Homo sapiens: one gene and its partner. The protein of the gene in region 2 purifies or fractionates together with the protein of the main gene of each other region. This does not show direct contact. Each region holds a gene or a part of one and is shown on either strand. Other genes may lie near its edges.

Region 1 (4,270 bases), on a different chromosome or scaffold from region 2:
ATGGTAATACCTGCTACATAGGATTGTTGGGCAGATTCAGTGAAAGAATGCATATAAAGAAGGGCTTACTGTAGTCTCTGGTACACAGTAATTTTACTATATGGCCCCTAATGAAGAGGTGGGACAGACTAGCAAAAGGCATACTTTTATATCTTAGTACCCGAGATATGCATGGTCTTTAGGCTTTGCTCTTTACTTGCTGGGTGAGCTTCCATGTGGTAGTTCTCTAAATCACTGCTGCTTCAACTCTAGTAGGAGAGAGATGAATTCTGCTAGCCATCTGTAATGTTTTAAGTATTTGTTAATATTAGGAAGGTATAAATAATGTGAGTGTTGAGGAGAGGTGACTTCAGGTAGGAAGAAGGATCAAGAGAGGCATTGTGGAGCATATAACATTTAACCTTAAAAGATAGGTCTTATAGAGAAGGTGGGAGGAGAAAGAGGGCATTTTAGGTGGAGGACAGATAGGCAGAAACATGGAGCGTATTTGGAGAAGTATGCATATTGGATGCCAAACACTAGGTACATTTACAAATGTTCTCATTGCATCATTCAGTAACCTTCACAGATAAGGTTGCTAAATCTCATGCCAGAAAAGTAACTCCCAAGGACCCCCAGCTGGTGACATGGTAGAACTGAGAGTTGAATCCAAGTTTGACCAATTCTAGTTGTTTCGCTCCTTCTACTAAGCTTCATTGACTTCCAGCTAACAAATGTCTAATTTGTACTAAGATAAAAGAGAGTTGTGAGAAATAAATTGAGAAAATGAAGTTGGAACCAGGTTACTGAGGTCTTTGAGTAGTAGGCTAAGGAGTTTGGACTTAGGGTAGGCAGTAAAAGTCATTAAAGGTTTTTGAGCAACAATAATGGTAGTGAAACTAATTCACAAAGATTAGTCCAGTAGCACTGAGTAACATAAATGGCAGTGGGGGATGTTTCAAAGTGGCAAGTTTGCTAAGACAACTGATGTTAACCAGGTAAGAGAATGAGAGCATGAACAAAGAGCAATGGAAATAGACTGACAAAGAAGTTGAGGTAAGTTGTGAAAGCATAATTGACAAATATTTGGATATATGAAGAATGAGGAAGAGAGAGTAGATTAATCAAAATTACTGTGTGAGAGGATGGTGATGCCACTGGTAATAGGAAGAGAAGATTTAGAGGGAAGATTTGGACATAGTTGAAGATGCTGGTAGCACATTGAAGCATTGTGTCTTGCGCATATAGCTTTACAAAATGGCCATTGTGCTGGATATTCTTTTTGCCCTTCCTGATCTATTTTCCATCTTTATCTCTCTTGTTCTGTGTTCCTGGGAGGCTGACAAATAAAGAACTGCATACTCTCTTTTCTGGCTTTATTCATGGTGGGTTTGGACAGTGATAGAAAAGTGAGGCTGAAATATTTGCTCCTTCTCTTTCTCATATACTTAGCAAGAGATTGTGAGTGGCCACAGCTCTGCTCCAGTGGCCCTCTTATAGCTCTAGGTCTTTTCTGGCTTCTCGTAACTGTCTCCTATTGCTAGATTCTCTAGTCCCAAGAAGGTTCAAACCTTGTTGATTTGCCTTAACTGTGCCCATACCCTTGTAAATAGTTCCTTTTATTAAAACTCTTCAATAACTGAATATACTGTGGTCATCTCTTCAGTGAAATTAAAAAAAAAAACTTCTTTCACATTTTCTTATGACTTGATCTTCCCACACCACCAAACGTGAAGATCTAGCTATTTGCACTAGGTTACTATCCCTAAATTCAGTGCCTCCCTGTTTCTTAGTATGTCAAGTTAAAATTTGTTACTCTTCTGCTGGGTGATTGTGCTGGAAATACAGAAGAAAAAGACAAAAATCCCTGCCCTCAAAGAGCTTATATTTTACTGGGGAGAGACAGGCAATAAGACATAATCAATTATATGGTATGTTAGAAGATGAGAAGTATAGAAAAAATTAGGGTGAGGAATGGCGATTGTTGCAAGGGATGTTTGTGAGGATAGCATACTTTAAAATAGGTGGTATGGGTAGGTCTCTCAGAAAGTGACATTTGAGCAAAGACTTGAAGGAAATGTGGGAGTGAGCAATATAGGTATGGGAAGAGCATTCTAGGTAGAGGATTAGGAAGAGCAAAAGCCCTGAAGCAGGACTGTGTCTGGCCTCTGAAGAAATGCAAATTGTTCAGGGTTGTTGGACCTGAAGGAAGAGGAGGAAAGGAATAATGAGGCCAGAGGGGCCAGATCATGTAGGGATTTGTAGGTTGTTGTAAGGATTTTGGTTTTCACTAAATGAATGGTGAACCATTTCAGTTTTGAGCAGAGGAGTTCCATGATCTGATTTGAATTTTAAAAGATGTGTTTCCCAAAATTCCTATTCCTTTCATACAGCTGCTTTCAATGAAGGTTTATAAGGAAAGCAATCAGAACTACTTGGATAAGGTATAAGTGATCCACAATCTTTTCAACTCTACCATAGGTATCTACATATATATGTTGAGAGATGCTGCTTTTTGGCCAAAATGAATCTTGAATTGGGGGTGTGCAGAAAAAGTTATATCTGGCCTGAGGCTGGTATCTTTTAGAGTGGCCTACTTGCATGGTTGGCCCTTATCTGAACACGTGGATTTAGGGGTATTCTCACTGTTCACTAATAAAGGTGGTTCACTGTACCTAGACTGTTCAAACAAGATGATTTATGCTAAACACCTGCTTTCCTTCTGGGAGTATGGAATTTTGGTACATGCCAGGTAAAGGATGTCTATATGACCAAACTCCCAATGAAAACCTTGCATACTGAGTCCCTAGGCAGAAACATCCCTCGTATAAAAATGTGCTCTGTGTGAATCTTCATGGGAGGGAGAGATCCTAAAGAAGCCTGCACATGGATTCCTCCAGATTCTGCTTATGTCTTTTTCCTGTATGATCCAACTGTGTACACTTACTGTGTCACTGTAATAAACTTTAGCCATGAGTACGATACTTAGCAGTGCTGAGTTTTGTGAACCCTTCTATCAAATCTCAATATGGGCTTGGTCCGGGGGATCCCTGACACAGGCAGATTTTTTTTTTTTTTTTCAAAGAGTCACCAAGTTAATTGGAAAACATCAGGTTATGGATAGAAGGAGCAGTTGGGCAACCTGTCACAGAAGTCAGCCAGCTCTGTCTAGTGGAGAGCTCTTCTGAGCTGTTTCTGCTTTGTTAATTCCTTTTCTTTCTCCAAAAGCTTCCCTCCATTTGGTTTTGTCACACTTTATACATTTGTAACAAACTGCTGACCGGAATTTGTCCATCAGGTTATGAAAAATGGCAAATGAGGAGAGTAAAATTATGGATTTATTTATTAAGAACTATTAAAGTATTCATATGCTCTGGGACACCATTACTAGGAATTTAACCTTAACAGAACAGTTTATTGAAAAATTTATTGAAAGGAAAACAGTCTTTGCATAAAAATTATGACGTAGCAAAAAATTGGAAACTAAATGTCAAATATTAGGGAAATGTTAACTGTGGTCTGTCAAAAGGTGAAATATTAACTCAGTGTTATCAGGTGAATGAATTAACAAGATGTGGTATATACATACAATGGAATATTCAGCCATAAGAAAGAATAAATTTCTGGTATATGCTACAAGATGAATGAAAACATGCCAAGTGAAATAAGCCTGCACAAAAGGACATACTATGATTGCACTTAAATGAGGTACCCAGAGTAGGCAAATTCAGAGAGATAGAAATGGGAAATTACTGTTTAAGGGATACAGAATTTCTTTTCAGATGTTGAGAAAGTTCTGAAAATGGATAGTGGTGATTGTTATACAACATTATGAATGTACTTAATGCTGATGAATCGTATATTTAAAAATGGTTAAAATGGCTTTTTTTCTTTTTTTTGGAGGCCGGGTCTTACTCTGGTGCCCAGGCTGGAGTGCAGTGGCATGATCATAGCTCACTGGAGCTTCGAACTGTGGGCTCAAGTGATCCTCCCACCTCAGCCTCCCCCGTAGCTAGAACTGACTACAGGCACGCGCCACCACAGCTAGCTAATTTAAAAAATCTTTTTGTAGAGATGGAGTCTTGCTATATTGCCCAGGCTAGTATTGAACTCCTGGGCTCAAGTGATCCTCCCACCTCAGCCTACCAAAATCCTGGGATTACAAGTGTGAGCCACCACACCTGGCCTAAAATGGCAAATTTAATGTATATTTTACCACAATAGAAATTGTAATGAAAAAATATATTATTTAACATAATAAATATGTAAGTATATTAAAGTAGTGGGATGA
Region 2 (5,125 bases):
TACAGCAGAATAGTTATGAGGAACACATTTCCCATCTATCACCATTCTTTTTGTTGTTGTTTGTTTTTTGTTTTAAGACAGGGTCTCGCTCTGTTGCCCTGTGTGGAGTGCAGTGGTGTGGTCACGGCTCACTGAAGCCTCGGCCTTCTGGGCTCAAATGATCCGCCTACCTCCCAAAGTGCTGGGATTACAGGCATGAGCCACCATGCCTGGCCTGTTCTTTTTTCTGTGTACCACCTTTTCCTTATTTTATTAGACACATTTGTTTCTGTCTTAGACAAAATTGATAGCTTACATTTATTGAGGGCTTTACTATGTGCCAGACACAGTGTTAAATGCTCTGCATGTATTATTTAAGCTTTTGCAATTACAGGAAATGAAGATTCTGTTACTTTTACAGATGGGGAAACGGTGTTTTAGTAGCTTTACCAAGGTCATAATTATCTTGTGTTTGGAGACTATATTAAAACAAATTGTATACCTTTTTTTAAAAGCTTGTTTTGCCGGGTGTGGCGGCTCATGCCTGTAATCCCAGCACTTTGGGAGGCCGAGGTGAGTGGATCACGAGGTCAGGAGATCGAGACCATCCTGGCTAACAAGGTGAAACCCCGTCTCTGCTAAAAATACCAAAAAATTAGCCGGGCATGGTGGCGGGCGCCTGTAGTCCCAGCTACTCAGGAGGCTGAGGCAGGAGAATGGTGTGAACCCAGGAGGCATAGCTTGCAGTGAGCCGAGATCTCACCAGTGCACTCCAGCATGGGCAACAGAGTGAGACTCCGTCTCAAAAAAAAAAAAAAAAAGGCTTGTTTTGTTGTTGACAGCCATGTCTAAAAAGAATATACGTTTCCTACCTTTGAGTCTTAAATTCTTCAGTATTAAATCACTGGCCTCTAGTCTTCAGTCCCTGTGGCTTTTATAATTTGTTTTAAAAATTGATGACTGGTTGGGCATGGTGGCTCATGCCCGTAATCCCAGCACTTTGGGAGGCCAATATAGGCGGATTGCTTGAGCCCAGAAGTTCGAGACCAGTCTGGGCAACATGGCAAAACCTGGTCTCTACCCAAAAAAAAAAAAAATTAGCTGGGCTTGGTGGCACACGCCTATGGTCCCAGCTACTTAGGAGGCTGAAGTGGGAGGATCTGTTGAGCCCGGGAGGTCCAGGCTGCAGAAGCTACGTTCATGCCACCACACTCCAGTCTGGGCAACAGAGCGAGACCCTGTCTCATAAAAAACAATAAAAAGAAAATTGATGACCTTCTCTTAAATTTTTCTTTTTAGCTTAATGTTTTTTATTTATTTTTATTTTTAGAGACAGGCTCTCTCTCTGTACTCCAGGCTGGAGTATAGTGGTGCCGTCATAGCTCATTGCAGCCTCAAACTCTGGGCTCAAGTGATCCTCCCGCGTCAGCCTCCCAAGTGAGACTACAGGGTCTCACTTTCACCCAGGCTGGAGCACGGTGGTACAATCATGGCTCACACCAGCCTCATCCTTCTTGGGCTCAAGCAATCCTCCCATCTCAGCCTCCCAAGTAGCTGGGACCACAGGCATGCGCCACCACGCCTGGCTAATTTTTCTGTTTTTTGTAGAGAGGAGGTCTTGCTATGTTGCCCAGGCTAGTCTTGAACTCCTGGGCTCAAATGATTGGCCTGTCTTGGCCTCCCAAAGTGTTGGGGTTACAGTCAGGGGCCACAATCCCCATGCTCAGCCCAGGCTATTTTTTTTTTTTTTTTAAACGAGATGAAGTCTCACTCAGCCTCCCGAGTAGCTGGGACAACAGGCACGTACCACCATGCCCGGCTAATTTTTTTTGTATTTTTAGCAGAGATGGGGTTTAATTATGTTGGCCAGGCTGGTCTTGAACTCCTTACCTCGTGATCTACCAGCCTCAGCCTCCCAAAGTGCTGGGATTTCAGGCGTGGGCCACCGTGCCCAGCCCCAGGCTAGTTTTTAAAATAAAATTTTAGAAATGAGGTATTGCTGTGTTGCCCAGGCTGGTCTGGAACTCTACCACTTGAAAATTTTTAGCATAAAGCAATTACATTCTCACTCAGAAGTATTGTTTTAAGCTAACACTTTCAAATGGTAGTAGATTCATCATTTACAAGTTAAAAAAAAAACCTAAAAACCGGTGTTAATAGCATCAGACAGTTCAGGTAGATTTTTTAAAAGGTGATTCTTAATATAACAAAAATGCTTTGTACCTTATCAAGATAGTTTTTTACTTATCACTACTTAATGTATTAACATGCAGTATCACTGTGAAAATTAAAAGGGCTGTGAGAATTCGGAAAGTCAATGTTGTTTTCTTGTCAGCAAAGCCAAAATAATGTAGTCATAGTTTCTGAAATAAATAACTTACATTTTAAGTACATGATAAATTGATCTTTTTGCCAGAAATAGGAAAAAAAAATTCTTGTTAAAATGTGCTGAGCGCTGAACATTGTTGCATTGTTAGTGAGAATTGTATTTGGCTATTTCGTGACATTTAAACACTCTTATATTATTGAAATTTTGCAGGAGAACGCCCATATAAATGTGAACTTTGTCCTTACTCAAGTTCTCAGAAGACTCATCTAACTAGACATATGCGTACTCATTCAGGTTGGTAAGAAATTGGAACTTTTCTATCATTTTCAGTAAATGACCATTTTAAGGAAATTCTTTTAGACTTGTAACCGAGTCATTTACTTATTATTTATTTTTAATATAATTTAGAAGTCAGAATTTAAAAATCAGTATTCCGTCAATCTGGGGATTCCTAACATGGAATCCAAAGGTGGACCTCCTGAAAATGGAATTTTTGTGTACACTTTTTCTGGGAGGAGGGGCCTTAATTCTCATCAAATCTTTGAAGCGTTCCGTGACTCCAACAAAAGTTAAACTAATGTAGACCAAGACTGATTGATCTTTTAACCCCTACTTCTCATATTTCTCCTAACAGTATAAAGCTGAGAGTCACAACGTGTGGTTGACAAGTGTCAGGGATTCCTTCTTAGCTTCTCAGGTCCTGAAATGAAGGTTTGTTCTGTTTCAAGGTTTGGTCGAGCTTTTGAGGACTGACTGCAAAAGTTTAGCTTGAAAAAGAAAATGATAGACAATCTAGGATGCCAATTTATTAAGCTGTATTAAGAGTATAGGACTGTAACATGAGAGATTCGTCCACTCCAGTGACTGAAACAATCACCATCACCACTCATAATTAGTCCCTGTTGGCCAGCATGGTGGCTCACGCCCTTAATCCCAGCACTTTGGGAGGCCAAGGTGGGCGGATCACCTGAGGCGGGGTAGTTTGAGACTAGCCTGACCAACATGGAGAAATCCTGTCTCTACTAAAAATACAAAATTAGCCAGGCGTGGTGGCGCATGCCTGTAATCCCAGCTGCTCAGTAGGCTGAGGCAAGAGAATTGCTTGAACTTTAGGAGGCAGAGGTTGTAAGCCGAGATCACGCCATCAAGAGCGAAACTCTATCTTGAAAAAAAAGTCCCTATTGTCAAAGTATTCAAGTGGCCAAGTTAAAAAGTAATGTTAGCATTGGTGGTCTTGCTTGAATGGGTAGCCCTGATTGACTCTTGGTGAACTACCACTTTTACTTTTTATTTTTATATTTTTTTTGGAGACGGAGTCTTGCTCTGTCGTCTAGGCTGGAGTGCAGTAGTGCGATCTCAGCTCACCGCAACCTCCGCTTCCCAGGTTCAAGCGATTCTCCTGCCTCAGCCTCCTGAATAGCTGGGATTACAGGCGCGCACCACCATGCCCGGCTGATTCTTGTATTTTTAGTAGAGATGGGGTTTCACCATGTTGGTCAGGCTGGTCTCGAACTCCTGACCTCATGATCCACCCACTTTGGCCTCCCAAAGTACTGGGATTACAGTCATGAGCCACCATGCCTGGCCGAACTACCACTTCTAATTAGAATACAGATTTAGAATGTATATCCCTGTGGGAAAAGTATCTTAAATCTTGCTGTTACAAAAGCCTATGTAGAACCATCTCCCTTAAGTTAATAATTAGCTTAGATCTGTGCTATTCGCTTGAGTAGCCACTAGCCACATGTGGCTATTAAGCTTTCGAAACATTAGTAGTTTGAATTGATACTTATAAAATATGTACTTACCAGATTTTTTAAATTTTATTTTATTATTATTTTTTTTCTGTTGAGACAGAGTCTTGCTGTATCCCCCAGGCTGGAGTGCAGTGGCGCGCATCTCAGCTCACTGCAACCTCTGCCTCCGGGGTTCAAGCAATTCTCATGCCTCAGCCTCCCCAGTAGCTGGGATTACAGGCATGTGCCACCATACCCAGCTAATTTTTGTAATTTTAGTAGAGATGGGGTTTCGCCATGTTGGTCAGCTTGGTCTCGAACTCCTGGCCTAAAGTGGTCTGCGCATCTTGGCCTCCCAAAGTGCTGGGATTACAGGTGTGAGCCACCGCGCCCGGCCACAGATTTCAAACAATGTGAAGAAAAGACTATCTTTCTCTGAAGCAGGTTAGAGAAAAAATAAAAGAATGTTAAATATTTATTTTTCAAGTTGATCATATGGCAAAATTATTGTATACATTGGCTTTAAAAAGTAATAAAATTAATTTTAACTGTTTCCTTTTTACCTTTGTGGTATGACTACTAGAAAATTTAAGATTACATGTGTGATATGCATTATATTTCTACTGGACATTGCTGCCATGAGTTAGTAACAAGACTTGATAATAAGACTTGATTATGTCACAGATTCTGATTTATTTGAACAGCTATGAAGGTGTCCTGTAGTATAGTTGCTAGCCTTTCTTGACCCTACGTGCTTGTCACGCTAATGTACTTTGAGTGTTTTTTTCCTAAATCTAAGCCATTGAGTGGTGCCACTTAACCAGAAACCTGGTTTTATTATTTTTGGGTGTTTTTTGGTTTCATTCTCTGATGGTAATGTGGATGCAATTTCAGACTTTGGAGGTAAGCATCATGTCCTGTTGATAGTTGTACTAGCTTTTTAGTAAAATATTTGAGAGCTTTGTATTATTATTATTATTATTATTATTATTATTATTATTACTTTTTTTTTTTTTCTGAGATGGAGTTTCGCTCTTGTTGCCCAGGCTGGAATAAAATGGTGTGATCGCAGCTCACTGCA

Evidence for each region. The genes of interacting proteins can lie anywhere in the genome.
Region 1: the proteins of REST (region 2) and HNRNPA0 purify together in Homo sapiens (affinity purification with mass spectrometry, with the first as the bait; one large-scale study listed by BioGRID). This does not show direct contact.

The regions. Positions count from the first base shown.
Region 1 is NC_000005.10:137,744,344-137,748,613, reverse strand, and holds the end of HNRNPA0 (heterogeneous nuclear ribonucleoprotein A0), read left to right. Parts: 3' UTR 1-2,963; downstream 2,964-4,270. UniProt on the Homo sapiens protein: mRNA-binding component of ribonucleosomes. Specifically binds AU-rich element (ARE)-containing mRNAs. Involved in post-transcriptional regulation of cytokines mRNAs.
Region 2 is NC_000004.12:56,917,269-56,922,393, forward strand, and holds part of REST (RE1-silencing transcription factor), read left to right. Parts: intron 1-2,518; coding exon 2,519-2,602; intron 2,603-5,125. UniProt on the Homo sapiens protein: Transcriptional repressor which binds neuron-restrictive silencer element (NRSE) and represses neuronal gene transcription in non-neuronal cells.